6 separate regions of the Homo sapiens genome follow, and all the other regions are linked to region 2. The links come from fine-mapping of genetic effects on gene expression. A gene starts in region 2. Each other region holds a variant in brackets. All regions are shown on one strand. Distances are from middle to middle. Region 1 has its middle 7.5 kb from the start of TMEM272. Region 2 holds the start of DHRS12 (dehydrogenase/reductase 12). Region 3 overlaps WDFY2 (WD repeat and FYVE domain containing 2). Region 4 has its middle 52 kb from the start of LINC02333. Region 5 overlaps TMEM272 (transmembrane protein 272). Region 6 has its middle 41 kb from the start of CCDC70.

Region 1 (4,090 bases), 48 kb before region 2:
ATTTCACATATGAAGAAGGAAGTGCATAGAGAATTTCAGAAACTTGCCTAAAGCTACACAGAAGTAGAGCCTAGATTTGAACCAAGGCAGTTTTGCTCAGAGACCATACCTCTCTAAAGTAGAAGGTTACTATAATAACATAGGCATCAAATAGCCTGGGTCACAATGAGCATCATAGCTGGGGAGTCAGAGAAGAACAGATTGCTACAATAAATATTTTGAAGAAAGATGCAAAAGGTGATCAAATGGTTGCATGGCATGAAGATGAAGGAAGTGAAGGAAAGGTTTCAAGTACCCAGTCTCAATACCTGGAAAGTGATCGTGCACTGATAGAAATGTGAAATTGAGCTGGAGTTGATTTAGATGGGTTGGGGAAGTATTCTTACATGAAACTTTGGGATCCTCAGTGATTCACAGTTCATAAAGTGTTTGCTATTTCGGGTAAGCCTTATAATAGCCTCTGGAGGAAATAGCAATAAGATTATTATTGCTAAGTGTGAATGGAGTACAGAAAATAAATCACTTAACATCAGCGAGCTCACGGGATTGAAAAGGATATACTTTCTCCCCCTGCCACACACTTTGTACAAAATCAATATTTTCTGTTCACTCAAGATAGACAGTTTAACTTAAATATTTTAAAATCAGTGCCTCATGAGTGACACAAATTTAACTTAATCTTTTCAATGCTATTATTTTAAAAATAGTTTACCATTCTTGCCAATTTTCAAGGTAATGCATGTTCATTGTAAAAAGAAATCAGAAAATAGAGCAAAGATGAAGAAGAAAATGAAAATCAACCATATCCCAATACTCAAAGGTAACCAGTATGAACATTTTGGGGTATATTCTTCTAATATATTTCCTATCCTTATGACTACATATATTCTATGCAATTGGTTTTATTCTGTGTATGCTGTTTTGTGGCTTGCTTTTTCATATATCATTTACACTTCCCAATTTCTTTAAACATTTTTGAGAACACAATTTTTAATTACTGCCAGAGTGTACATTCCCCTATGTTGGAAAATTAATTTATTCCATTAGGGATATATTATGGTTGGCCCTTGAACAACACAGGTGTGAACAGTGAGGTCCACTTATACATGAATTTTCTTTGGCCTCTGTCACCCCTGAGACAAGAAGACCAACACCTCCTCTTCCTCTTCCTTCTCAACCTACTCAATGTGAAGACGATGAGGATGCAGACCTTTATGATGATCCATTTACACTTAATGAATAGTAAATATATTTTCTTTCTTCTTTCTTTTTTTTTTTGAGAGATGGAGTCTCGCTATGTTGCCCAGGCTGGAGTGCAGTGGCATGATCTCAGCTCACTGCAACCTCTGCCTCCCAGGTTCAAGCGATTCTTCTGCCTCAGCTTCCCAAGTAGCTGGGACTACTGGCATGCGCCACGAAGCCCAGCTAACTTTTGTATTTTTTAGTAGAGATGGGGTTTCACTATATGTTAGCCAGGCTGGTCTCAAACTCCTGACCTCAGGTGATCTGCCTGCCTCAGTCTCCCAAAGTGCTGGGATTACAGGTATGAGCCACCACGCCTGGCCTGGGATTTTCTTAACATTTTCTTTTCTCCAGCTTACTTTATCGTAAGAACACAGTATATATAATACATATAACATACAAAACATATGCTAATTGACTATGCTATTGTTTCTGGTCAACATTAGGCTATTAGTAGCTAAGTTTTTGGGGAGTTGAAAGTTACACATGGAATTCTGACTATGCACAGGTTCAGTGCTCCTAAGCACTCATTGTTCAAGGGTCAACTGTATTTTTTTTTTTTTTTTTGACGGAGTTTTGCTCTTTTTACCCAGACTGGAGTGGTGCAATGGCGCGATCTTGGCTCACTGCATCCTTCACCTCCTGGGTTCAAGCAATTCTCCTGCC[T/C]CAGCCTCCCAAGTAGCTGGGATTACAGAAGCCCGCCACCACGCCCGGCTAATTTTTTGTATTTTTAGTAGAGACGGGGTTACACCATGTTGGCCAGGATGGTCTCGATCTCTTGACCTCATGATCTGCCCGCCTTGGCCTCCCAAAGTCCTGGGATTACAGGCTTGAGCCACCGCGCCCGGCCGCGGGTCAACTGTATTTTCCTGGAAAAGTAGATCAAACTGGAAAATTGCTCAAAGATGAAGACAATGACAACATAATCATCACTGCTCATGGCCTCAGTCTCTGTATTGAAAGAAGAGAACTGTTTCTAGCCACACCAGCCATAAAGGAATCATGCCCTGGAAGCAGGCTTTGTGAAAGAGGAGACTTTGTCATGTTCACTGCTATATCCACAGTGCCCGTTTTATAAAGAGCTTCTGAAATTGAGCAGACAAAGACCACCAACCCAATAGATAAATGGCCAAAGGATATGAACAAATTGGTTGCAGACAAATGCAAATGGCTCTTAAATATATGAAAAAAATTTTCAACCATACTTATAATTAGAGAAATGCAATTGATTAAGAAAACTGTTGCATTTCTCATCGATCAAACTGGCAAAAATCCAAAAGTTTGACAATACACTCTGTTAGCAGAGTTGGAAGGAAATAGGCCCTGCTATACAGTGCTGGTAGGAATACAAACTGTTATAACCCCCATGTATGGGGATTTGTCAGAAACTAAGAAAATTACACGTGAATTTGCCTTTTCACCCAGCAATTCCATGTCTAGAAATTTATCCAGCAGGTACATGTACACAATTACAGAAAGATACTTGTGTAGGTTATTCATCGGAGTATTGTTTGTAATTCCAAAAGATTGGAAGTAACTCAATTTTGTAGCAATAGGGAACCACTTACATAAACTGGCACATCCACAGAGCAAAGTACTATGCAGCTGTAAAAAAATATATAACAGGCTGGGCGCGGTGGCTCACGCCTGTAATCCCAGCACTTTGGGATGCTGAGGCAGGCAGATCACAAGGTCAGGAGTTTGAGAGCAGCCTGGCCAACATAGTGAAACCCTGTCTTTACTAAAAATACAAAAATTAGTTGGACATGGTGGCGTGCGCCTGTAGTCCCAGTTACTCAGGAGGCTGAGGCAGGAGAATTGCTTGAACCCAGGAGGTGGAGGTTGTGGTGAGCCGAGGACATGCCACTGCACTCTAGCCTGGGTAACAGAACAAGACTCCGTCTCAAAAAAAAAAAAAAAAAAAAGGTAAAACAAAGGTCTTTTCGTGCTGATTTGGAGAGATTCCCAGGATACATTATTAAGTGAAAAAAAAAAATGACTACAAATGTAGGGCGTCTTCTTCTTCTTCTTCTTCTTGTTCTTCTTCTTCCTCCTCCTCCTCCTCCTCTTCCTCTTCTTCCTCTTCTTCCTCTTCTTTTTTTTTGGTTACGGAGGAGGCAAGATGTCACTCTGTAGTTCAGGTTGGAGTGCAGTGACATGATCATGGCTCACTGCACCTTCCACATCTCAGGCTCAAGTGATCCTCCCACCTCAGTCCCCCAAGTAGCTGGGACTATCAGTGCACGCCACCACACCCAGCTAATTTTTGTACTTTTTGTAGAGACAGGGTCTTGCTGTGTTGCCCAGCTGGTCTCAAACTCCTAGGCCCAAGGGATCTGCCTGCCTTGGCCTCCCAAAGTGCTGTAGTACCTCTTCTTTTAAACAAATCTTAAAATTGGAAATGAACACATGAACATAACCATACATCAAATATATACCATACCCCTACAGAGGAAGGATTATGTCACATGATCCTAGGGCACACTTCTTTGACTCACCCTCCTTAGCGGGATATATTCTAAAGAGGAGAAGAACTTCAAATAAATTTGAAACTTCAACTTGGTCATTTTATTTTTGTAGAAGTGCTGTACTGTTACTTTGAAACATTTCTTTCTATTGTATGACAAAGCATATAAATACGTTAATAATGTTAGGATTCAAAATTTTCAGTATAAAAGAAAAGGGATACAATGATAAAAATCAAATAAATTACACAAAAGAGTATAGTATTAGATTTAAATTTTAAATATCAAAAAGTACTCATGATTTTAAAAATAGATATGGTATAGCTCTGTTTATTGAAATGGACCGGTAGCAACAATATCACAGAAGCAATGCATACCCCCTA
Region 2 (4,090 bases):
AAGGAGCCCTGGGTGGCGCCTAGTCTGGCCCCCTTTCTGTTCAGATGAGAAAAACTGAGGCCCAGAGGCTAAGTGACTTGCCCCCATTTAGTATGATGCAGCAGGGAAGGTGTGGGCTCTGGAATCATACTACCTGGTCTCAAAGCCTGGCTCCACCATGTATTTACTGTGACCTGAGTCAAGTTATGTAACCTCTCTCAGTTTGCTCATCTGTAAAATGGGGATAATAGCAGGAGTAACCATATGGATCAGTGTGAGAATTAAGTGCTATAATCCACAATGCTTGGCACACTTTAAGCCTTCTATACATTTTATCACATGGGTCACACAGGGAATAACTGGCAGAAATTGGACTAGAATCCAGCTCAGCTGACTCCAGTTAAACGGGAACATTCCCTTGTGAACTCCATACTGCCCTTTGTTTGTGTGTGTGTGTTACTTGGCATCCAGGTGAGAGTGGAAGCTCATTTTGAGACAGGGTTTGGCTTTTCCTAAGACCTCCTCTTTAAATGTATATAATGTATACACTAACTACCTCGTGGATGCTTGATTTGAGGCTAACACTGGACACCTCATGCCCTCATGGAAATTTCTTGAATGTACACTGCATGGCTGTAAGCGCAGGGGAAAAAGGAATGAGAAGAAAACTTAAGGAGGGAAACCAACACTTCTGATCACTTTGTATGAAACTAAGCTCTTTATAATGAATGCCTTTAATCACAACCACCCCACGAGGTGCGCATATTCATTCCCATTTTACATATTAAGAAACCAAGACTGAGGGTGTATGCAGCATGCTCAGGTTCACCTGGCTAATGCAGAGAGCTGGGTTTGCAGCCACACTTTTACTTCAAGGGGCTGCTGACACCCTCCAAGAGACTTGGTGGTTCAAAACTATTTCTCATCCCCTCTCTGCGAGCCAAAAGCCTATTTCCTGAGGTGTTCAGAGAGATTCAGAGCAGATTGACACCTTTTCCATCACTGACACAAAGAGGAGGGTATAAAAAACAGTATGTAGCCCTGGGGATCTAAAATATTTTCCCAGCCAAATCGGACAGGCATTGAAAGTCACACAGGCTGGGGTGGTTTTACAAAATGCCACTTGTTTAAATTTCCTTTCATCACTCTGTCAGGAATAACAGCAACGTAGTGGAGCCTCAGAGTCCTGTTGAGAGGGGCGAGCTGTTCCGGGGAAATTTATTTCAAAAGTTATTCTGAAGTAAAAACTTGCCCACTGTGGAGTGAGGTTGGACAGTGATCCTATATCCTAGGTAATGAGGCTATTAAAGCAGCTGGTCTCTTCAGCTTATGTAAGTGGGGCCCAGTCTCTGGGCGACTTGGGTAAACCGGTATAGAATTTAACAGGGTGACTAGGAGTGACAGCAGCAGTAAGACCCCCATTTCTAATGTGGCGTTAGGGCTGGAGGTTAGATGTGGACAGGGGTGTCTGAGTCCTACATAATGGGGCTGGATGACTAGTCTGAGATCTGGGTTCACGCAGCAACCACACTCTTTTTTACTCACACTGTTCATCTGGGCTTGGGTGGAAAGAGGCTGATGAGGATTTGGGGGAAATCAAGGGGCTCTCCCTGGCATTGCATGAAGTCGCAGAACCAGTGGCAAAAGTCCAACTTTGGAGACAATTACTTCTCGGGTGGGAGCCCCAGCCCTGCCTCTTGCCTGCGATGTCGCCAATCTGACTGCGCTTGCTGGAGACGGGAAATGTGGCACGGCACTGCATCCCCCAACACGTGTAGAAACTTAGAGAATGCCAGTTATTAAAATAACCCTTATGATAACACCAATTCGATGCAGAAGTCTTTTAAATATCATAAGCCTCGTCGTTTTATTCCACATGGTTTTCTAGGTAACCAAATTCTAGGAGGTGCGTTGCAGGGCCATCTTCGCATCCCGGCCATGCCCAGCAGGACGGTGTTCTCTAAACGGCGCTGATGCCCGATTTCGACCCCGAGGAGACTGCGGACCTCGACTGCGGCCCCCACCAGGGCCGGTCCGCCCTCACTCCACCCTCTGAGGCTGGGGCGGAGTCGACCGGCCGGCCCCGAGACCCCTTGCCTTACCGGTGGAGCAAGGAACCGGAAGCCGCGGCTCTTACATAACCGGGATGATGTCAGGGCGGGCGACTCCCGGGGGGCGGGACCAGGGCGGAGGCCGCGCCGGGAGCGCGGTGGGGCTAGGCGTGGGGCGCTCCCGGCATGTCCCTGTACCGCAGCGTCGTGTGGTTCGCCAAGGGGCTGCGCGAGTACACCAAGTAAGGCGGCGCGGCGGGGCGCGGGGCCCCGGGCTGTCACGTGGCCCGCCTCGGCGCGGGCGAGCAGGGTTGGCGGGGACGCGCCCGCGGCTCCTTCGCCCTCTCGCTGGGCCGACTAAGCGTGTCCAGAACGACGGGTGCGCCCGCCGTCTAGCGACCCACGGCTGGGCGTGGGGCAGTCGCCAGACTCCAGCCGCTCAATGCCCGCGACCGAGACTGGCGCCCGAGGGGCGGGGCTGTGGCGCGCCCAAGCCCAGGGCCGTCCCACTGACGTCAGGCGGCCCCGGCGCCAAGGAGCCTCTTGGGCGGCACCTCGGCGCCCCGCTGGGTGTGCTCGTGGAAGTGTCTTCGTGGTGCTGCTGGCGGCGTCAGATAGGGCTGGATCTAAATCGCTAGCTAAGGCTCTGTCCTAGTGCCTTTGGGTGTGTTTCCTTTAAAAAGATGCAGCACCTGGACTGCGACCTTTGGCTCCAGCTGGAACTTTCCAGCCAGTGTGTGCTTCTGGGGAACGGTGCGTGGTGGTTTCGTCGCCCCGTGACCACGCTCAGTGTGCCCTAGTTGGCTCTCCACCTCATTGTGGTTTTAAGAGGTGACAGGTTCCTGTGACGGAGGAGAGATGGAGGTTTTCTCTTAGAATTGATTAGGCTAACCGCTGGTTCTCAACCCTGTCTGCACATCAGAATCACTGGGCGAGAATTAAAAGTACCCAGTTTTCAGGCCCCATCCCTACAGATTCTGATTTAGTGGATCTGCACAGGGGCCTGGACTGGCATTTCATCCAAATGCCCCAGGTGATTCTCACCTCTGAGAGGCTTCTCCCTGCACTGGGGCTTTATCAGTTCCCACGGCAACCTGGCCAGCACTCCTAGGGGAGGTAGGAGTTGCAACTCCCTGCTCTTCACCCCACATCGTTTTGGAGAAGGTTCAGCTCTGTCTCAGGAGCCCCTGCTGCAGAGAATGGTGGGGAGTGTAGTCGTGAGCCCTGTCCCACAGTTTTTAGGGGAATACAGTGGCAGCCTCTTTCTTTCAAAGGGGTGTCCTCTGGCAATGACCATTAATTGCTGGATCTTTCCACATTACACAGCATGAAAGCTTAAGTCAGTTTCCAACCAGGGGTGGGCCCCAAGGAAAGCAGACTGTAAAAATTTCTCCCAGGACTCTTTCGCTCTGATTTCCCCACCTTGAGGGAAGGTAGAAGTGAGGCCAAGGGGCCCAATCCACCACAGATTGGTGGGGGAAGGGAGGGGAGGGGAAGGCAGTTGGCAAAGTTAGATGGGTTTTCCTGCTGTTGTGGATTTAGTGAATAGGAGAGAAAAACAACAACCTTGTTTTGACTTCAGTGTGAGAGCGCGGAGTTAGAGTTTACAACGTTTCTCTTGGCACAAGGATTTTTATAAAGCCTCCCTATATTGGGCTCCTAAGGCAGGAGGATCTAATCACTGTTTCCTAAACTTTGCTGAACCTAATAATTCCCTGGGGCAGTTTTAAACAGACTCCTAAACCCTGGGCAAGTGTGGATGGGTCCTAAGCAAATTTCATATTTGGGTAAATTGAGGGTGTGGGGAGACACAGATACCTGCCAGCTTCCTCCTCCCCATCCCTGTCACCTCAGCTTCAGGAAACAGTAAGTACAAATGTCCTCTCAGCTTGAGTCAAAATCACTGGCAAGGCACATGAAACCACAGGTTGCCAAGCAATCACTTCTGAGTCAGTAGGCAGGGCATTTCCAACAGGTTTCCAGATGATGCTGATGCAGCTTGTCTGGGGACTGCCCTTTGGCACCGAGGCTGGGTGTTGAAGAAGATCACCTACCTTCTG
Region 3 (4,090 bases), 35 kb after region 2:
GTAAATGCCAGCCACAAGGACACAGCTCGAATGATCTGGAAGCGTGTTGGAGCAGCGGTGGAGGGGAGCAGAATTCTCTTCCGGATTGGCCTCACCAACTCCATGACCTCAGGCAGCTCACCTGGGCTCTCTGCAGCTCTTTCCTCCTCTACAAACAAGGGAACTGAAAGCAGCAGCAGCCACAGCACACACCCCAGGGTGCACCCGCGGCGCCAAGAACTGGTCTCAGCGCTGTCTGCGGATTAACGCATTTGTCCTCAAGCCTCTGTGGAGTGGCCACTACTGTCTATTATCACACCCATTTACAGATGAGGGAACTGAGGCCCAGAGAGGCTAAGACCTCCCAGCCGGGCCTGGCCATGGGGTTTTGGGAATCAGGCTCTCACACACTGCTGGCATGGCCTTTCTGAAAATCACTATTTATCAGAAGCCTTGGAATTCATCCTAAGAAATAAAGATAGGGAAAACAAGGTTGCTTATCACAGTGCTGGTGGTAGGAGATGAAGTTAATAAATTATAGAACACCTGTGCAAAATCTGTTCAGGGCTGAAGACTCTGCTGCCAATCATGCCTATGGAAAAACCCTGTGTGCACTATATCATTAAATGAAGATACCAAGTTCCTGAATAGTACATGCCTCATGATCTTATTTTTGTAACTACCACACCCCTATAGAAAGAGGTGTGTGTTGGTGCTTTGTGGCATCTCATGGAGACCAGCTTGGAGATTTGGCAGAAATTAGTCCTCACCTGTACAGATCTGAGTCTCCTGTCTTAAATACAGAAAGGATGTTCTCAGCAAAGTATACTAGGGGAGACTCAGCCTGGGAGTGCTCAGAGAGCATGGCTTCTCGATTCTTCTCACGGCCTAATGGGAGACATGCTTGGTTCTGCCTGTCCAGGGTGAATTCTAGGAGGCCATGGGGGGCCCCCAGCCTCTTACCCTCCAAGGACACCATTCTGACAATCCCAGCATCAGCTCAGATGTTTAAAATCTGCTTGGCAAGCCCACCAGCGGGCTCTATCATCTGGGTCAAGGTGCAGTTTACCATGTGTTGTTCAGAGGTTACAGAGCAGCTCTCAGGTGCACACAACCTGTCTGTGGCCACAGGGGCCTGGGAGGGCTGAGCATGCGGACATGTGTCACCGCGGAGTGACACATCACAAGGTTTTCACATTTTTTCTTTTTGCCTATCAGTTTATCCTGATTTTTCTACAGTAAACAAGTATTGCTTCTGTGAAAAGAAAAAAAGATGTTTATTTTTAATTTAAAAAAGGAGGGCTTTTGCTTAGGTGATCCTTTCTAGCTCTAAAATTCCATGATCTCAGTAAGGCTCTTAATTGTTGTTTTCTCTGGTTTATTTTCTTTCCTTGGCTTCGAGAGAGAACTATTTTGTTTCCCAATGTGCTCACTGTGGAGACACTGTGTTCCCTGAGGTCTGTGGGAAAATGGGGTGTGGACTGGAGCCAGAGCGTGTGGCTGGGTCCTCGAAGGCGTGGGCAGGTAGAGTGCCCGACGCTGTGGCACAGGCCAGGCCCGGGAGGCTACTCCAGGCAAACACCTCCCTGTAGCCCTGGGATGCAGAGGGTGGGACACCTCGAGGGGCTTGGCAGAGGAAGTGAAGAATTCTTTCCTCTTATCTACTCCTCCCTAAAAGAGGAAAACACTAAAACAGTCCAGGGAACCAACAGCCAGGATCCTCTGAGCCTAGATGGTTTGAGAGGGCTCCTGAACCCAGGAGACTAAGTGGTTTGCTGGGCCCAGCCTCACTGTGAGCCCCACAGCTCATTAGAATCCTCTCTTAGGATGGAAAGGGAGGGCTCTGCGGGCGACTCTGCTCTCAGGGCTGGGCTGGGTGCTGGTGCCCCGGGGACATGGGGACTCAATCAGGCCTCTGGTGAGCACCACTTTCCATCAGGTGACACCTTGGGGGCTTTGTAACAAGGTTCTTTGGAACTGGTTCCGAGTGGCTTGGGTGAGTGCTATAAAATAGAAGGAGCAGTTTATGATCCCATTTCATTTTTGCACTTTTTTTTTTTTTTAAATTAAGGGAAGTCAACCACATTTGCTGGAGAATGCTGTCCTAATCCGCCTGACCCTTCCTTCTCCCAGGTGTGAGGCAGGCGATGCCGGGGTTCCACGCCAGGTTC[G/A]GGGACCGCCTGCGCTCCGAGGCCCAGGGCGCGGACACCATGCTGTGGCTGGCCCTCTCCTCTGCCGCAGCCGCACAGCCCAGCGGCCGCTTCTTTCAAGGTGACTTCCTCCCTGGCTGTGAAGGCAGCTGACACAGGGCTAGGGGCAGCAGCTGGGCCTTCGAGGCGCACCTTCCCCTCCGTGAAACCTGGGGTGGGACTGTCCCCTGGGGGGTGCCTGGGCTTCTTTGGCGAGATGATTGCTTTGCCTGCTGAGGTTAGTTTTGGGAAGCGCTTCACTCCAGGTTGGTAGCTTCTTTGGAGACTTGTGATAACCCTGTCATCAAGGTCCTGTGAGAACGGGAGAGGCAGTTCCTACCTTGGGAATGGAAGATTTTCTCTGCAGTTTGCTGAGGCCCAGGAGGGGCGCTATTCAAAGCTGCACTGCAAAGGGAGTAACGGACTCTGCTTCTCTGCAGTGCAAAGGGTGTAAGGGACTCTGCTTCTCTATTTTTGGAAGCAGTGATCTGTTCACGTCTCTCCCCAGTGGGCTCCTAAGGGGGCAGGCGTGTGAGTGGACGCCATCCGAAGACAGCACTTGACCTCGGGTGGAAGCCAGGCTCTTTGCTTGGCTTCTCTTTCCTCTGTTCTTGATGAGAACCACCCTTGCTTGAGGAATTCTGAAGCGCTGGTGACCCCTGGGGTATCCGGGAGGATGGCCGCACCCCTTCCTGCTGATCACCCAAACGTGGTCTCCCGTCCAGCCCTGGCTGCAGCCTCCCAGTTCCCAAACTGCACTTTACATATCAATCCATGCTGCCTGATCCCTGTGGGACCTTTGACAGCAGGGATGGGGGTCTAACAGCTGTAGGGTGCTGCCACTCCAGCAGGCGTCGGTTCAAGGCCTGAGCAGCACAGGGACATGGACCCAGCCACGCTGCAGCAGCTCACACCTCTCTGCGGTTCCCTCTCACTTTTAGATCGGAAGCCAGTTTCTACACACTTGCCTCTCGCTACAGCGTCCTCCTCACCGGCCGAAGAGGAGAAACTCATTGAAATCCTGGAACAGCTGGCTCAGACATTTAAATAGGCCAACCCAGACACAGTGCGGTACCAGAATTGCCTTAGAAGATACCAGAAGGTGCGGTCTAGGGACCAGTGAATAAGAAGACCCCACTTCAACTTCCCCTCGAAGACGTTGTGCCTCACAGCGAGGCCTACAAGGGATGGGAACTTTTATTTCAAAATAAATACTACCGAGGCTGTGATCAGGCTCACCTTGAACTCCTGCAGCAGGTTCTTTTCTTATTTTAAGTCTCATTTATTCGAGAATGGTTTTCTAAAGAATTCGAAGTTTGAGATGAACCATCATTTCAGTCTTAGGGGACGCAGGGGTGGGGGCAGCAGGAATGCCCCCCTGTGAACTCCACTTCCCCTCCCTTTCTCAGCTCCTCCAGTGTCAGAGGCTGGCGCTGTGCACCCCCCCCCCCCCCCCGCCCCAGGAGAGGGCTGGACACTGCCTTTACTGTGCATGGTCCCAGAAGCACAGCATAACCAAGGGACGATGCATATTTACACAAACAATTTAATGAGGCCTAGTTTACATTTGCTTAAGATTAGGAGTGGCTTCAGTAATGCATCTGGCATTCTGGTACTACACTTTGATAAAACCTCTAATTTACACCATTTTACCTCTTAGTGACTCCAGGAAAAGTTGTAATAAAACCAATGAGCAGATTTAGAATACATCTACATACATTCTTGGTGTCCATGGTGGAATAAACGTAACTCATCCCCCATAGCAGAGGAAAACCCAGACGGCTGCAGCTTCTCAGTGGTCCTGGAGACACTCTGATCCAGGGCTCATCATCAGCCAAGGACCACAAGGAAGGGATTTTTCTGGGTGTGCCAGCCTGAAACATCAGCGTCTTTCTGACAAAAGGAGGCGCTATCAAGCAAGC
Region 4 (4,090 bases), 480 kb before region 2:
CACTACGTTAACTGAAATAAGCCAGGCACGGAAAGACAAACACCACATGTTCTCACTTATTTGTGGGCTCTAAAAGGGTTAACAGTTGAACTCATAGACATGAGTAGAAGGATGGTCATCAGAGGCTGGGAATGGTAGTAGGAGGTTGGGGGTGGGGAGGTGAGGATGGTTAATAGGTACAAAAAAATAGAAAAAAATGAATAACACCTACTGTTTGCTAGCACAACAGGGTGACTATAGTCAATAACAATTGTACATTTTAAAATGACTGAAAGTGTAATTGGATTGTTTGTAACACAATGATAAATGCTTGAGGGGATAGATACCTCATCATCTATGATAAGGGTGGTTAATATGCATTTAATTATATGTCTTGCTATACTTAAATTGCCATATTGGTGTTTTAGTTATATATATGTGTCAAATGATGAATATAAATTTATTGTTTGAAAACTTCCCATGAATGTTATATTTTTCCCTTAGTCTACTCTAGAAAATGCATTTTAAATAATGTATGAAAGTAGAATTCTTAATGGGGATCAGTCAATAGTTGTGGTCTTTAAATATTCCTATCTCTTCTTGCAGGGGAGATGAACTCATATTTTTCTGTTTTATATTACAGGAGACAGCATTATTTTTCTGATTTACTTAACATTTTAGATACTGCTGTTACTGTGATTATTCTGCTGGTTGATGTCGTTTACATTTTTTTTGACGTTAAGTTTCTTAAGGATATTCCCAGGTATGAAATATAAGACTCACTTCTCTTAAAATTTTTCATTTACTTTTTGCATTTTCTGTGGCTTTTATTCTGTATAATCTTTTCAACTTCAAATGGCTCATTTTATACCAAATATGTTGCTTTAAAATGAAATGTTTAGGTAAATTCCCACATAGGTTGAAACTAAAAGATTGTGATACTTAGGGACCAGTGAAGAGTATACACACCAAGTACCATTCATTGAATAAAAAAGATGGAGTAGCCAAAGAAGGACTTTACTTCCTGTACTAACTTTAACTTCACTACATTTTGAAGTTCTCGTCAAATTCCCATTTGTATCATTTTTGGCCTTTTGGCTAAGATCAAGTGTGACATTCTTATTAGTTTCATATGTGATACATAAAAAAATTTGATATTAAAAACAATTCCCCTCTGTGCTTCAACTACAAATCCCTTACACATAATGTTCTCTCTGGGTTTTTCCCACAGCCAAGAGGGAATTTATTTGAGCATATGCAAAATTTGAGTGACTTTAATCACAATTTTCTTTCTTTTTTTTTTTTTCTAGTTTTAGTGGTCTTTTTTTTTTAATTTTTTTTTTATTATACTTTAAGTTTTAGGGTACATGTGCACATTGTGCAGGTTAGTTACGTATGTATACATGTGCCATGCTGGTGCGCTGCACCCACTAACTCGTCATCTAGCATTAGGTATATCTCCCAATGCTATCCCTCCCCCCTTCCCCTACCCCACCACAGTCCCCAGAGTGTGATATTCCCCTTCCTGTGTCCATGAATCACGATTTTCTTTTCCTTTTTTTTTTTTTTCTTTTGAGATGGAGTCTCACTGTGTTGCCCAGGCTGGAGTTCAGTGGCATGATCTCGGGCTCACTGCAACTTCTGCCCCGCCGGTTAAAGTGATTCTCCTGCCTCGGCCCCCCGAGTAGCTGGGATTACAGGCATGCACCCCCATACCTGGCTAATTTTTGTATTTTTAGTAGAGACGAGTTTCACCATGTTGGTCAGGCTGGTCTTGAACTCCTGACCTCAAGTGATCTGCCCACCCCGGCCTCCCAAAGTACTGGTATTACAAGCATGAGCCACCGTGCCCAGCCTCAATCATGATGTT[C/T]TAAGAAATAGAAAACAGAACAGAAAACTAGGAGATGACACGTATAGCAACACAACAGTAGAGTTTTGCAGTATAGTTGTGGTAGAAACAAAGAAAGCTAAGGCAAAGTTAGAACTGTTAGGGATTAGGAAACTAAAGGGTGTATGAGGACCTGGTGACTCTCTTTTTGTTCTTCTTTTCTACTGTGACAATGAGGAAAATGGAAGAGCAAACGTATACTGGGATGGAGATGTTTGTGGCTTCCTAAGCTTGTTCATGGGTCAAATACCGGGTTTCTTTCTGTACCCTAGCTTCCCTGGACTACAACTCAGGCACCAACTAAGCATGTTAAGTGATAGGCTTTTGGAGTTGTTTGAAAATCACCTCAGCCAATGTGGTCCTCTGACTAGAAACCTCAGCATCACTTGAGAGCTTGCTAGAAATACAAGAAAAATACCTTAGGCCCCACCCTGGACCCACTGAATCAATATCTCTGGGATCCAACAATCTGTAGCTTAACACGCTTTTCCAGATGACTCTTCTTTATGCATGCTTAAACCAGATAAGCACTAGTCCAGACCATCAGTTATCTGCTTTGATGTTTCTGACGGTAGGAGAGATACCAGCTAGCACACTTGGGAAGTATCTCAATCTGTTGCCTGCCTAATGTGCATTAGCAGCTGTAGTGAACCTCTGTTACAGATGGGAGTAACAAAGGTGAACAAGAATCCTCAATTTGTTTTGATGTGGAAAAATTGAAAATGCTAGTCTCAAATCCCAACATTAAATTTACAAATTCTAAGACTCTATTGTTTCACTATTTCTCTAGACCAGAATTTTTCAACCTCAGCATTACTAACATTTTGGGCCAGATCATTATTGTCATAGGAGGGTGGTGAGCAGTTATATTCATTGCAGGATGTTTAGCAGAATTCCTGGCTTCTATCCATTAGATGGAAGTAGCGCATGCATGCGCGCGCACACACACACACACACACACACACACACACAAGCACACCAGTTGTGAAAACCAAAAATGCCTCAAGACACTGCCAAATATCCCCCATGTAGGTGATTGAGGAGAGGAGGGAAAATTGTCCCTGGTTAACAACTGCTGCTCTAAACTTAATTTATATTCATAAAATTGTCTGTTTCTGAAGCAAAAATTGATCTTTTAAATTTATTTTTAGATGGACACGTTTATTTCGACTTCTACGACTTATCATTCTGATAAGAGTTTTTCATCTGGCTCATCTAAAAAGACAACTTGGAAAGCTGATAAGAAGGCTGGTAAGTGGGCAAAACATGCTTACGATTCAGAAAAATATTTTGTGTTTTGGGACCCATTGGCAAGGGTTGATATCTATACTGTATAATGTTCTTTATTTTTATGTTGATTTATGTTTCACCAACTAATAATGGTTTTAAACTCTCAGGTTTCAGGAAACAAAAGGTGATACGAAAGTGATGGATTTGACCTAGACCTCACTTATATTACAGGTTTGTGACACTTAACTGTTGATTTACTTACATTAACTTCACTTTTTCTTGTAATTATATTTTTATTTTGTTTTTGCCTCATCTAAGCCACATTCATTCAAAGTATTCTTTATTCGTGAGGCTATATGCTATGCCATTGTGATAGTGTGACATATTTGTGGTTTAGCCCTGGCAAGGAAGATTTCCATGTCATCTCAATTCAGGACTACTCGGTTGCAGCACAAAAACTTGAATGGATTTTCAGCTGACTCCATTTGAGTTTCAGTTTATTAAGTTCTAGTAGTTATCCTGAATCCCAAGGATCCCAGAGAGACCGCTTCTCTTCCTAGAACCCCAGAGAATGAGGTCACAGCTTTGTAGATCTCAGGTGTTCTGAGTCAGAGGGCTACAAAGCACGTTGGGAGTTCCCACCATCACTGGTGCCCAGAACTCTTGGATTTTCTTTGGTATTTAAGATAAGAAATAAATTCCAAGAACAGGGGGAACTTCAGACTGAGGCCAACATAAGTACATGGCATATGGTTTGAACCAGTGGAGTGTTAAGAACACCATGCCAGCTTAATGGTCATTATGTTGGATAATTTAATATGTTATCTTGATTACCCTGAGTATTAGCTCTTTTCTGTCAACCTCAATCTTAAAAGGTATTTTTCTGTGAAAATGGAGTCTGATCATATAAAATTAACTTTTGTATGTTATTTTAAATCTATAATAATGTTTGTAATAGTGATGATTTTGACTTCCAGAACATATTGTCGCTAT
Region 5 (4,090 bases), 38 kb before region 2:
GGGGATGGTTAATGTCTAATATTCAATGTTATTCAAAACCAAGAGTGAGTTGGTCCTCACAGCTGATTTAGGAATAAATAGTTTAATTTACCAAGCCAATCAGTAAAAACACAATCATATATATATATGTGTGTGTGTCTACACATACACACATATATATACATATATATATGTTTACTGTTGATTCATGACACAACTCAGAGGTTAACAAAAGTAGAATTTTACAAATTTGAACTCTAAAACTGGGAATGTTAGACAGACATAGAAAGTTTCTCAGACCTAGTCCTATTGACATTTTGGAGCAGATAAGTGTTGTTGGGGACTGCCCTGCTCCTTGGAGGATGTTTTTCAGTATCTCTGGTCTCTTTATCGACAGCCCTGCTCCAGCCATGACTATTAAAAATGTCTCCACATATTGCCAAATGTGCCTTGGGGATCAGATCACCTCTGGTTGAGAACCACTGAGATATATCAATTGGACTGAAAATTGAAAATGCATTGAGCATATCATTTGGCAATTATTATTGATTAATTCCCATCGTGCCCTTTATTATCACTCAGCTGCTAGGAGAGGAAGCAGCAGGGGCTATTATCACTGCCCTTCTAGGTGCAGAGGCAGGTGTGAGACACACAGTCCTATCACAGCATGCCCAAGGATAGACTTGTAAGTCACTGTTTGTTCACACTGGAGAGAAGGCACTGCCCGGCCTGTTACCCCAATCTCTTCCTGTTTCAGATTTCTAACAAATAAGAAAACTTTCTATCAAATAAGAAAAAATGTACGTTTTCTTAGTAGAAGATATAGAAGGTATAGAAATTGACTAAAATCTGTGTCATTACAGATTTTAGTCAATCATTTAATGGATTGCATTGACATGAATCCATCATTAGTATGTATTTGCTCTATTGGGCATCTCTTGCTGTTGAGGGACCCTCTTTTGGAAGAGCTGCCGCTTCAAAGGGCTCCAAGGAACGTGCAGTTTTTTGTGAGTTGTTCAAGTCCCCACCATAATAGTGAATAGGTCTTTTGTAGTGTATTTGAATCTGCAAATTCACACAGTGAATTCTGTGAATCAAAAAGCAGATTCACTGCTATTTTCTCAAATTGCAGCTTTCTTTGTGGGCTTCCTCTGAATTGAAATAAATCCATATCTTGGGTCATAAAAACCAAATCACAAGGGGGAACATACAACTGGGAAATAAGCCTAGAAAGAATTGGCAAAATATCACTGGCAATCAAAAATGTAAATTAAAATAATTAATTTCCACTTTTGCCTATGAGAGTAATAAAAATGCATTAGTCTTTCAGCCACCCAGTGCTGGTTAGGTGTGGTGAAACTGCCACTCTCATATTGCTGGTGGCACTGGAAATGGATACAGCTCATTTATAAGTCAATTTTACCTCAAATCCAAAAAGTTGCTTATGCTTTTTAATTACATAACTATTCCAAGAGATCTACGTGTGCATGAAACAAAGCACTTTTCATGGAGAGAAATGTCTCTTAGGATTACTTGAGTGAAAAGTAAATATCCAACAAGAAGATATAGAGAAATATAGTTTGATATAGCGTACTCTGTGAAATATAATTCAGCTGTGAAAATGAGAGTTCTGAAGACCAAATGGTAACAGAAAGAATGCTTATGTCAAAATGTGATGTGTTCACTTAATGTGCCTGATTATTGCAACCATGTAAAATGTGTGTACATGCACATATGCATATGTATATATGCATATACTTAAAAGCTCCAAA[AT/T]ACTAACAGTTGGGCTGGAAGTTCTGCAGTTGTTTATAATGACTAATGATTTTCTTTTCTCCTTGATCTAATTTTTCTGTGAATTCGCTTTTGTAATTTTTAAAGAAAGTATTCCAAAAGAGAAAAATCTTGCCTACCACCATCACATCATCTCTCTTCTTTTTGTGTCTGCTCCCTGGTGGACTTACTCCTTTTCTGCTTATCTATCTCCTACATGCTACTTTTTAAAAATCTCTGGACTTTTGGAAAGCAAACTACTTTTCATTTCAAATAATACTTCTTGAATTTTAAGAGGTTTTAAAAAGAAGTTTAAAATTATAATGGTAAAACCTGCTAATGGGGGAAAAGGCAAGGCAATATTTGGGTATAAAGTGGAAATGAAAATACTACCCACGCCTGCCTGCGGCACATTCCTCCCTACCCCTACCCCAGCCCCAGTGGCCCCATATCCCTGTACCTGCCTTCATAGGGAACAGTTATTCACAGTGGTTTAGTGTTTATGCTGCTGATCTTTTTCTATGTGTTTACGTAGATCTACAGACATTATTACATGCACGAGGTCATATGATGTGTGTGTGTGTGTGTTTAACATTTTATTCCTTGTAAGGGAAGTTGAACACAATATGCAAAGTTTGTCGGCCAGCATTTGAGACTGTACCTGGGAATTCTGTCTTCCCTTTCGGGCTGGATGCCAAAGCTGAGTTCTACTGCCACTGCTACCTGTCTCTTAGGGAACATTCTTTAAGGCGTGACAGAATTCACAGCACATCATTCTTTTTTTAGTTCTCATCCATCTTGCCAGTTTATGAAAATAACAAGCTTGAAAGAATAAGAGTCTCCTCATTTATAAAATGGATCTAATACCTGCGACTTGTGTTGGTGTGTTCTATTGGCTGCCACCTCTTGTGGTCTGATATTATCAATAAAGATATCACTGTTTTTCAAATTGATGTTTCTACCTTATTTGCAGTTAGTGGCTAAAGGGATCAGCCAATTTAGGACATTTGCATTAAAAAATGTATATGCAGCTCTATTACTTTTTGTGGTGAAACATTGTTCTTCAGGATTCACAGGAGATTAAAGCGTGACCTCTTACCCCAGGGAATGGCCCAAGGTAGAAATGTCTTGTTATAATGTGACACAGACCCATCTCGTTAGTTTCTGCAAAGCTGCTGTGGATTTGAAGACTGGAATGTCTTAGTTTGTAGGCGCTGATAGAAACCGTTCAACACATTTCAAAGGAAGTTTGTAAATCAGTGGCGACTCCACCAGGCAAGTGTAAAGAGATGGCTCTTGTGTCTCCTCCCTCTGTTCTATCCCTTCTGTGATCCAGGAGAAAAATGCTGTGGTTCGTGGCTGGAAGATGTGAAGTACACACTCTCCCTGTTATGTGAAGTGCACCCTCTGTTTTCCCTAAGAAGGGTGAGGAAAGGAACCGACCTTCCGGGCCTTTAGGAGCCGTGATGGGCCATGGCCCCTTTAGATAACTGGGCTTATCACTGGATCCAGGAGGGTTGTTTTTCCAGGCAGGGTTTTAAGTGGCTTAGCTTCTGTGACACCCGTGTGGCAATCAACCTCATGAAGTGTGGACATCAACAATAAATCTGTAATTCATACAGTAGCCATTTGTCCATGGCTTGGGGCCTACTTGTTATGTAACAAACGGATGTGCACCTGGCAAACCCCATTGGGCCAGAGAACTGGTCTCATTTCACCTTGATCGGTAGAATCCCGAGTCAAAGGATGTGGAAGGAGGCTGTGGTTTCCTCAGGGCTGTGGTGTTCCTGATTTTCTGTGTATAAGGACATCACAGCCACAGTTTTTGCAAGAACATTGTGGGGGAAAATGGAGCCTTGTGAAGAGACATTTGAATAGTAGTTCATAGAATTATTCATTAAACATTACTGAAGACCTACTGCATGCCAGGGAGACAGACTCATGCGCATCCCCCACAATTGCTTCCAGGAGAACAGTGGGCAGGGAGCCTGCGTCAGGAGGCAGAAACAGCAGAGGGACCCCTGGAATCCAAAGCGCTGCCTTTGGGATTCCCAGGGATTGGGGGGTCAGAAAACCTTGGGTGCTCAGCCCTGCCACTCTGTGTCCCATCATCTCACTGCAGTCAAAACTGTCAAAGTCCGTTCTGGTTAACAGAGAGTAGGCACCTCAAGTTTGGCAGATTTTAAGACACCTGGATTCCAATCTGGCTGTGTGATCTTGGGCAAGTCCTTCACTTTTCTGACCCTCAGTTTCTTCATCTGTAAAATGGGGATAAGAATCTTTGCCTGGTTAAATAGGATCAAGCATGACAGGACTGACCAGGGAGGCACCGTGACCTCCT
Region 6 (4,090 bases), 99 kb before region 2:
GAGTCAGGTGCAGCTCTAGCCGAGGTGAGTGGGACCTGCCGTGTCCGAGGTGGTGACAGCAGGCACTGAGACTGCTCTGGAATCATGGCTCTCTGAGGTTGTTGCTCTGAAGTCCTGCCTCTGGGCCCTCGTCCAGTGTCGTGACAGCTCTTTTCTCTGGAAGAGGGAGGACAGTCTCTCTCCCTGCACGAACTGCCTTCAGCCTGACATTTCTTCTCCTGCTTAGGGCCGTTCTCTGTTGACTGCTTCGTGTTGTCTGCTGTTTCTCTTAGCTCAATGCTTCTCAACGAGGGTGCTTTTGACCTCCCCCAGGAGCATTTGGTAATGTCCACAGATATTTTACACAGTAACTACTGGAGGTGTGCTACTGGCGTCAAGTGGTTGGAGGGCAGGGATGCTGTTAAACACCCCACAGCACACAGAACAGACTCCCACAGCAATTATCTATTCCAAAATGTCAGTACTAATGAGGTTAAGAAACACTACTAATGATGATGTTCCCCTACCTGGTAAATAAAATTCAAGGTTTTCAGCCTCCACATCAGTACAGAATGAATGTTTCTTAATTGAAATGCTTGGAGCCAGAAGTGTTTTAGATTTAGGATTTTGGAATATTTGCATTATATTTGCTGGTTGAGCATTCCCAAACTGAAAATCTAAAATCTAAAATGCTCCAATGAGCATTTCCTTTGAGCATGACCTTTGAGCATCATATTGATACTCAAAAAGTTGCAGAATTTTGAGCATTTCAGATTTTTGGATTGCTCAACCTGTACTTTTCACAATATCTTGAAAACGGACCATGCTTATCTTTTCTCTTTTGATCTAGAGCCTCCTTCTTTTCCACGTCCATACCATGAATTCCTATTCAAGCCCAGAGAAAATTATTCATTACTACTATGCATTAGCTGCTGAAGGCCAGGTGATGTTTTCCCAGATCTGACTCATCATGATCATGATCATCAATTATCATTATCATCATCATCAACAACAATTACCTTAGGGTCATCATAAGAATTGCATATAAGCTAGCCACCAAGCAGTCATCAGTCATCTGCCTTTAGCCCAGTGCTACCTGAATTCAGTTTCTGTCATCATGTATTTCTTAATTTCAAAATAGGCAGCAGCACTAAATCTGGTCCATGGGCTCATTAACATCATCATCATCATCATCATTAATATTACCATCATTGTCATCATCACTGCAAAGCAGGCAACAAGCAGTCATTAAGCTCATGCTGATTCTGATGCTGATGGTGAATGAGAAGCAGCACTGCAGAAAACCACCTCATGCCTAGCATCCCAGGGCCACAGGTGCTGTGTGTTAGATTGAGTGTTCACTTGTCCAGTGTGAATGTATTTTTGTTAAGAGTTATTGGCCTTTGAGTTTCTGGTGACCAGATGCTTCTTTCTAAACACACACACACACACACACACACACACACGTGGAAGACTGTTGGAGAAACCCAAATGGTGTCATAGGAGGCAGGTGTGAGAAGACACTTTGGTTGCACAACCAGGTATGATTCTGCCAGAGCAGAAGACCCTATATGGTTCTCTTTTCTGCCCCAGCACTGCCTCATTATGGCTATGATAGGTTTATTGAAGCTAAAGTTTGGGCATTCTGGGGCAGCCTTTGCCCCACACCCACACGAGTCTTTTTCATTTTTCGGTTGCCACTGAAGTCTGGAAATAGCACTCTGCCTTTTCCTCTGGCCCCATAGAAACCGGGACTTCTGGGTGTTTAACTTAGCATCTGACTCCATTAGATGCTCAGGGTCTCCTGCACTTACACCTAGGGATAGGAAAAAGGGGTGTTCTGGGGAGAGTAGGGGGAGCAGTTTGCCCTCTATTTGGTGGCTTTCCTTGTACAGTGGAGAGAGCAGCCAGAACCTGAAGTGACAACTGAGACATCGTCATCTGACGTAGAGTCTCTCTTCCCTCCCTGACCTCGTTGGTGTGCCACCTCTCCCTCCCTCCCATTTCCAACAGCATGCTTAGGAATGAGTTATGAAGTGTCTTATTGGAAACCAAGACCTCAATGGCAATGAAGGGAAGACACTATAGTTAGTTATTATTGATCATCTCTACCTGCACTTTCTATATTTGCAAGCACTTTTTGGGACTTAGTGAGTAATAAATAAAGTGTCTCTAGATCACCTTGCTGCTTCCCACTGCTGCTGCCTCGTGCATCCAGTTCTAGTTGTGTACCTCCTGGATACACACACTAAGGAGGTGAGACCTTCAAAAGAAATGCAAAATATTTCCACAATTGTGTTTGTGTACAAACTGACCTGTCAAAACCAAAACTATATTTAGGTACTAGATTATAATCAACACCCCCAGTGGATGCTATTGGTGCCTTGCCCAGGGCCCCTTTACCAGGCGGATGCACTCATCTCCCAGCTTTGAGTATTGCTCACCGCAGCCACCTGCTTCCTGAAGAATT[G/T]CCCTTGCAGAGCAGAAGCCACCATGCTAGGAAGTTATCCACTCCCTCGGCATCACATAGCCAATAACCAATTGCTGTCAGGGCTGTGTTAGTTATCTGTTTCTCAAAATAAATTACTCCAAAACTTAGTGCCTTAAACGGACAATGAATATTTGTTATTTCACAGTCTGTGTGTGTCAGAGATTTGGGAGCAGCTTAGCAGAATGGTTCCCGTTTGGGTTTCTCAGGAGGTTGCCCACAGACTGTCCATCAGGGCTGCAAGTGACCTGCAGGCTTGACTGAGGCAGGTGGCCTTGCTTCTGGGGTGGCTCACTGGCCTGGCTGGCAAGGTGGGGCTGGTTGTTGGCAGAATGCTCAGTCCCTCTAACCATGGGACTCTCCCAAGTTCAGCTTCTAGAGTAGCTATGATAACATACTTTCTATAAAACCTATATTCTAAAATGTATTTAATAAAATAACTTTCCTCTAATTTTTAAATCTGCAACATTGCAGCAGTTCATTTTAGACATTGAGAGGCTGAACATTTTAGATTCTGGTTCTAAAGGCATGTGGGTGCCCTCAACATCAATAGCAGCAGCTAATAATTCCCAAAGCTTTTCCAGGCGCCAGGCCGTGAGAAGGGCAAAATGTGTTGTGATTCTGTTGAAGTAATGCCTACCACCCCTTCAGTCCCACACTGAAAATGTAACAAGGCAACTGGGAAACTGTCTTCAACATCAGTGCTTTTTTTCATTTTGCTTCTCTTGATTTTTACATCTTACAAAACTGAGAATCCACCTATATTTATTCTTTCATCCAATGCACGTTGGCTTCTGACCTCACCCCTGAAATGGCTTCTCCAGAGGTCTGCAGTAACCCCCCTGATACCACATCCCAAGTGATTCTTTTCAGTTTTTTTATTACATGACCTTTCCATGGAGCTTGACCCCAGTGGATAACTTCCCAAGCTCCTCCTCCTTGAAACTCTCCTCTCTTGGATTTTGAGCTTGGATGACAGAGTGAGAAAGGCCTGGCGTTTTTGCTCTGGACTGGGTAACCCAATGAAGCTATGTGGATTTTCTGCACAAATTTGGAATGTAAACACACCCAATGGGGCTTCTGCCCAGAGGATTGTAGCTAGGCTGGGCTGGAGGTAGGGAAAGCAGGGAGGAGGCTACGTGTTTGTGGGAGGAGGCTGATAAAGCCTGAACTCGGGGAGGCAGTGAGCCTTAGGAGAGCAGGTAGATTCTAGATACTTAGGAGAGCCACTGTCACAGAGCTTTGTAAAGGGACTTGGGATGGAGTGGGCACTGGGGGAGGGCAGAAAGGAAAATAGAGACACTGAAGATGTGTCCAGGCTTCTCCGGGGGTAGTTAGTAATGCCATTGACCCAAGTCAACTGATGTATTTCTGTGTTTTTGTTGGATTCTTCTTCATTTTTGACTTTCCTTGGCTATATGAATTTCCAGAAGTACCTGTTCCAGGGGCAACTGACAACTGAGAGGGGTGTGAGGCATGGGAGGGCGGGTGGGGCACAGGCAGCTCCACCGGGCGCCACCCCTCTAGCAGGAGTGGTTTCTTTATATGTACCAGGGATATTTCTGCATTGAACTCTAGACCATGTGGAACTTGGCTTTTTAGCAGGTCAAATGCCAGGCACAA

Evidence for each region. PIP is the estimated chance that this variant, and not a neighbour inherited with it, causes the effect. A credible set is the group of variants that fine-mapping cannot tell apart.
Region 1: its variant is the best candidate, but not a certain one, in a credible set for the expression of DHRS12 in whole blood (TOPMed, PIP 0.85).
Region 3: its variant is the best candidate, but not a certain one, in a credible set for the expression of DHRS12 in whole blood (TOPMed, PIP 0.89).
Region 4: its variant is the best candidate, but not a certain one, in a credible set for the expression of DHRS12 in whole blood (TOPMed, PIP 0.59).
Region 5: its variant is the best candidate, but not a certain one, in a credible set for the expression of DHRS12 in whole blood (INTERVAL, PIP 0.89).
Region 6: its variant is the best candidate, but not a certain one, in a credible set for the expression of DHRS12 in whole blood (TOPMed, PIP 0.87).

Annotation. Positions count from the first base shown.
Region 1 is chr13:51,850,600-51,854,689 of GRCh38, reverse strand. It overlaps a transcript of TMEM272 not described here. Among named protein-coding and RNA genes, the nearest start is that of TMEM272, 7.5 kb to the right of the region's middle. The variant T/C (reference allele first, on the strand shown) is at 1,909.
Region 2 is chr13:51,802,236-51,806,325 of GRCh38, reverse strand. It overlaps DHRS12 (dehydrogenase/reductase 12), which reads left to right and starts at 2,163. Exons shown (of 9, transcript NM_001377533.1): 1 at 2,163-2,272. LOC107984561 (a long non-coding RNA gene) reads right to left here and starts at 2,490. Exons shown (of 2, transcript XR_007063805.1): 1 at 1,525-2,490. RefSeq lists enhancers at 1,283-1,412, 3,798-3,847 and a silencer at 1,963-2,602.
Region 3 is chr13:51,767,316-51,771,405 of GRCh38, reverse strand. WDFY2 (WD repeat and FYVE domain containing 2) reads right to left here. Exons shown (of 12, transcript NM_052950.4): 12 at 3,697-4,090. DHRS12 (dehydrogenase/reductase 12) reads left to right here. Exons shown (of 9, transcript NM_001377533.1): 8 at 2,113-2,250; 9 at 3,110-3,413. The coding sequence ends at 3,219. Among named protein-coding and RNA genes, the nearest start is that of DHRS12, 35 kb to the left of the region's middle. The variant G/A (reference allele first, on the strand shown) is at 2,151.
Region 4 is chr13:52,279,890-52,283,979 of GRCh38, reverse strand. It overlaps the pseudogene TPTE2P2. Among named protein-coding and RNA genes, the nearest start is that of LINC02333, 52 kb to the left of the region's middle. The variant C/T (reference allele first, on the strand shown) is at 1,850.
Region 5 is chr13:51,840,284-51,844,373 of GRCh38, reverse strand. The region is part of intron 1 of TMEM272 (transmembrane protein 272); the gene reads left to right. Among named protein-coding and RNA genes, the nearest start is that of TMEM272, 2.8 kb to the left of the region's middle. The variant AT/T (reference allele first, on the strand shown) is at 1,752.
Region 6 is chr13:51,901,298-51,905,387 of GRCh38, reverse strand. It overlaps a transcript of TMEM272 not described here. Among named protein-coding and RNA genes, the nearest start is that of CCDC70, 41 kb to the right of the region's middle. The variant G/T (reference allele first, on the strand shown) is at 2,450.